2 separate regions of the Homo sapiens genome follow, and region 1 is linked to region 2. A link means that fine-mapping ties the variant in region 2 to the expression of a gene that starts in the linked region. Tissue or cell type: whole blood. Region 2 holds a variant in brackets; the other region holds the start of a gene. All regions are shown on one strand. Distances are between the middles of the regions.

Evidence for each region. PIP is the estimated chance that this variant, and not a neighbour inherited with it, causes the effect.
Region 1: HOPX starts here. The variant in region 2 is fine-mapped to the expression of HOPX in whole blood (INTERVAL, PIP 0.96).

Annotation. Positions count from the first base shown.
Region 1 is chr4:56,679,821-56,682,440 of GRCh38, forward strand. It overlaps HOPX (HOP homeobox), which reads right to left and starts at 1,476. Exons shown (of 4, transcript NM_032495.6): 1 at 1,435-1,476. RefSeq lists a silencer at 1,474-1,523.
Region 2 is chr4:56,617,247-56,620,008 of GRCh38, forward strand. It overlaps a transcript of SPMAP2L not described here. Among named protein-coding and RNA genes, the nearest start is that of HOPX, 63 kb to the right of the region's middle. RefSeq lists a silencer at 1,968-2,057. The variant G/A (reference allele first, on the strand shown) is at 1,471.

The DNA of each region.
Region 1 (2,620 bases), 63 kb after region 2:
ATACAAATGTAATCACTCAACACATCCTATTTTGTGCATGGACATAACATCTAATTATCTCCCTGGACTTTAGATTTCAAGCTCTTTGAGAACAAGATCCATTTTTTCTTTTCTCTTCCTCTTGGCCTTCAACTTATCTTTTCTCAGATATAGCCCTTAATCATTATTTGCTTGATTGACATAAGACCTTCATGAACTTAAAACCAAGCTTCAGTTTGGTGGCTAAGAAGTGCCTGCCACGTTGAAGGTTTTTAACTCGCCACCACTTCTGGAGAGGTTCCTCAGTCGGCAGCTTCAGCCCAGTTAAAAAAAAATAATAATAAGCATATGAGCTTCATTTAGGTCCGTGGACTTCTAGGAGTCCAGAAAGTGAGAGTCAAGGTGTGGGTTGGGGTGTGGGGTGGAAGGGGAGGCTCAGGAAGCGAGGAATGAATACCTGAGAAAGGTCCTTGGCTTTCACCAGATTCTTGATACAAAGGGATAGACTATGGAATTAATGCCCTGCTCTATTCCTATCTGCTTTTCATGAATCTGTTGTTTAATTATAAATCCTTTACTATCTGCTCCTCCCTTCTCCTCCCTTCCCACCTCCCCAGCACCTTCGTTTTGTTCTCTGCCTGCCCTGGTTATACTTAACCTTACTTAACTAAACACACTACAGGGCCCTGTCCAGTAGCAGTGCCACTTCATGGGAACTGTTTGCATTCCTTTTCTCTTTAAGAGCTTCTTATCTGAACTATGTGATAGATTGTACCTTTTTATTCAATGATTCTTATTCCACTTTACTTAACAGTTTACCCTGAATACTTGGATGCCACTCACATATCACAAACCTATACTTTCTCTAAACCCCAGAGCCTGGGATTCCTTTTCATCTCAAAAAAAAAAAATCACTGTTTTTGTTGTTATAAATAAGTATTATGAGAACCAGAAGTAACAATAAACTGCAAATTCAAAATCAAGCCACTTCTCCATCCAGAGACAGCTCCCTCACTTCCCCTTGTCAAACACAAAACATATTTTAAAACGATATTATGTCTGATTTTAGATAAAAGTCTGGGATGTAGAATAACAATAATCTGCTTCTAAATGAGAAAATCATAGGCATCTGACAAATGCTGGTTTCAAAGTTATCTTTCCAAAATAGAAGCGAGTAAGAAAAACATCTCACCTGCTTGGCCAAAAGACCAACACCAACTCCCCTTCCTCCAAATTCCCCTCGACCCCATGCAGTTTTGTTTGTAAGGGACTGATGTCTTACACCCAGCAGCATTTCCTAGCTTCTGCTTGGGGGTAAGCTTGTCATTCCTATTCTCCCTTTCACCTCTACCGTTTTCCAACAGATGAGCAAATACGGTAACGATAGCATTTTGGTCTAGTTCCTGCACAAACTCATTCCTCTGCATAAAAGGCAGACCTTTGAAAGGTACTTACGTGGAAGAGGCAAAGGCAAGCGCAAGCCCTGGGTTTGGAAGCTGTGTTTGCTGATGCCAGCCTGCTTAAATAGCTGGGCTGGCTGACGCAGGCTGCTGATAGCACGTTTATTTACGCCTATGAGCACACACTCGAGCAAGGACCTGAAAAACCTGCAGCGTGGGCAGGAGGTAAACCACTGAAAGTATGCCGAGGTTACGTCTCTCCTGGTTATTCAGGTTTGATGTTCAGGCTGGGACTTCTGAGAGTCTCATGGAACTTTCTCGTCACTATCTTCTCGTCCCTGACCTCTCTCCTAGCCAAGCAAGCTTCTTCACCAAGATAGGATAAGAGAGATGTGGCTGAGAGAAGACGGGGAAGAGAAAAGGGACCCTGAGTCTTCTCATCCACTTCCTTACTTTGAGCGAGTTTCCAGTTAGATGTTGCCTCATTTCAAAGCGTAGATCTGGTGCGGTTGATTTCACAGCTCTGAGAGCTGGATGCCAAGCTAAGAGCCTGGACAATTGCCCAATTAATGAAAGGTTGTTTTCTTTTGGGCACAGAATGTACACATAAAGAACAGTTAAAAGGGAGAGATTCGGGCTAGGATGATACAGTTTTAGGTCTCCCTCAAAAACGATTCTCATTTATTTCCCCTGCATCTGTACTTTCCTCTTACCATCCCCTCCCCTTCGTTAATGAAATTCCTGTCTAAGAGGTGAAAGATTCCCCATGGGCTTGCGAATAAAAAGCCAGTGTGTGAGCAAGTCTGTGGGAAGATGCATGCAGAGTGTGACAGAGAGTTTAGGGGCTCGTGTGACAATCCGTGGAAATGTTTCTAAAGGCGAGGGTATGTGTGTGGGTGTGAGGACCCGGCTGTTGGATGTTTACGTATTTTATTAGCTAGATACGGGAGCTAATACTCAATTGCAGTGCACTAAACATTATTAGGTGGGTATGATTTTGAGGGAATGAGGGAAGGGAGACAAGGTCTGGTGAGATCATCTGTGGGATTATCTGTGTGTATTTGCTGGTTTGTAGCACAAACCGGTAAGTGCCATCCAGAGAGCCACACCCTATATTATTCACTTCAGCAGAGAAAGAGAAAGCCCACTTGAGTCTCTTGGGAACAGTAGCCATATGTGAAAGAAGAGCAGCGCTCATTCAGAATACCTCTTTCCCTCTTGGAAAAGGGGGTGACGGTTAT
Region 2 (2,762 bases):
CAATGGTAAGTATTTGTGTAGCTAAACATAGAAAAGGCACTGTAGAAATACAATATTATAATCTAATGGGACCACTGTCATATACTTGGTCTATTATTGACCAAAATGTCGTTGTGCAGCACATGACTGTATTATGTTTTTTCCTACTACCTACCTACCTATTGTTGTGGGGTGGCAAGGACTACCTGAGCCGGTGGTAGTGAAAGGGGAAAGGGCCTCTTTTCCCCCTTATAGGGCATGCATTGGGGGTGTGGCTCCCTTCTTCAGTGCCCCACTGCTCAAACCTCTAGGGGAGCATACAGATGGGCAGGGTGTTGGGCTCTGACCCCACGGCAGTGTCTAGGGGTGCCGTTTACAGCTGAAGACCCAGTGGGCATGTGTTACAGGGTGCTCTTTTTGTTTAGTTGTCCGGACAACATAGGCGGCTTGTGTTAACGAGCTCATTTAGACCCCCTTCCTTATCACAAGGACAGAGGGATTTTTGTATCCCAGGGTTCTTGCCTTGGTGTACCAGAAGAATCTGATCACACGTGGGCTTGGAGAATGAACTCAAAGTTTTATTGAGTGGAAGTAGCTCTCAGCAGATGGGGGAGCCAGAAGGGAGATGGTTTTCCCCTGGAGTCAGGTCGCCTCTGACTGCTCCGTCCAAATTCTGCGTCCTTCTGCTGGTCAATGGCTTGCCAGTGCTTGTTGGCGTGCTCTTCCACCAGTGTGCTCTCCACAACCAGCCGCTTATGTCTTCTTCTGCCTTGTTGCTCACAACATCCAGCCGCTTGTGTCTCTGCCTTGCTAGGGTCTCGGGCTTTTACATGGCCAGGGTGGTCTTGGAAGATGCAACATTTGGGTGGGAAGGCAGATGTGCCTGTCCTCACCTAGGTCCATGAGGGTAGAGCCCTGGCCAGTGATCACACCCTCCTCTACCCAGCATTTCCCTTTTCCACTTTCATATCATTTAAAGGGACCACTCTCTTCCCTTCCCAGCACTCCCATATCAGTAGGGGATAAAAGAGTTTACCAAGACAGTTGTAAATAAGAAAGGCAGGTTTATTAGAGAAAGTATGAAAATACATTGCCAGGAGGCAGCAGGCAGAACCAGCACAAAAGGAGCGGACTGCAAGGAAACAAAGGTGTATTAGTTATTTCTCACGCTGCTAATGAAGACATACCCAAGACTGAATAATTTATGAAGGAAAGAGGTTTAATTGACTCAGTTCTTCAGGGCTGGGGAGGCCTCAGGAAACTTACAATCATGGCAGAAGGGGAAGCAAATGTCCTTTACGGTGTGGCAGAACCCAGAAGTGCCAAGCAAAAAAAGAAAAGCCCCTCATATAACCATCAGATCTCGTGAGAACTCACTCACTATCACAAGAACAGCATGAAGGTTACCGCCCCCATGATTCAATTACCTCCCACTTGGTCCCTCCCACCACACAGGGGGATTATGGGAACTACAGTTCAAGATGAGATTTG[G/A]GTGGGGACACAGCCAAACCATGTCAAAAGGCTTGCTGAGGATTTTATAGAACGGAACTTGGGCTGATTGATAATGCCAAAGCAGCACGGAGCTTAACTTGCATTCTTCTGCCAGCCGGGGTGTTTGAAAAATTGAATCATTTGATGATAAACAGGAAGTTTGGGAGTTCTGTACGTTATCTGTGCAGGAGGGCCATATGTCCTGGGCCATAAAGAAAAGCAGCCCTGTAGCTTATCTGCTTCCTGTTTTTGTTTATATGTTCTGGACCATGAAGAAAGGCAGACATATGGCTTATTTGCTTTATCTCTTTGCTTTCCCCTGGTCCTACAAGCCTGACTCCTTTTCCCTAATTAGGACACCATGCCTATGATAAAGTTTAATTTATAAATTAGGCACTGTAAGAGATGAACAATGATAGCTAGTAATAAAATAGAATAATTGTGATAATATACTGCAATAAAAGTTATGTAAATGTGGTTTCTCTCTCTGTGTCAAAATATTGCATTGTACCCTACTCACCTATTTTCAGACTGTGATTGACCTTGGGTAACTGAAACCTCTAAAAGCAAAACTGCAGTTAAGGAGGAACTACTGTATAGGTACAATGTGGCAGATTTCTAGAGCTTATTCATCTGGCTTTACTGAAACTTGATGCCTGTTGTTAGTACCGTTCCATTTCTCCTCCCCCCAGTGGCTGGCAACTACCATTCCACTCTTTGATTCTATGAATTTGACTGTTTTAGATACCTCATGTAAGTGGAATCATACAGTACTTGTCTTTCTGTGACTGGCTTATTTCACTCAGCACAATGTCCTTAAGCTTAGTCCATATTGTCGCATGAGGCAGGATTTCCTTCTTTGTTAAGGCTGAAGGATATTCTGTTGTGTATATATACCACATTTTTATTTATTTGTTCATCTGCAGATGAACATTTAGGCTGTTTCCACATCTTCACAATATAACGTCAAAAGCATAGGCAACAAAACTAAAAAATAAGTAAGTGAAACTACAATGAACTAAAAAGCTTCTGCAGAGTAAAGAAAATCAGCAGAGTGAAAAGGCAATCCGTGAAGTGGGAGAAAATATTTGCAAACTATTTGATAAGGGGTTAAACCCCAATATATATAAGGAACTCCTACAACTCAATACTAAAAAAACAAAAACAAAAACAAAAACAGAAAAAAACTAGCTTATATAGCTCTGATCTCCATGGAGTGGCTGTTGTAGGATGGTCTGCAGGGCTGACTTGAGGAATGTCATAGGCAGCTCTACCAGGCACTGCAGAGTCAC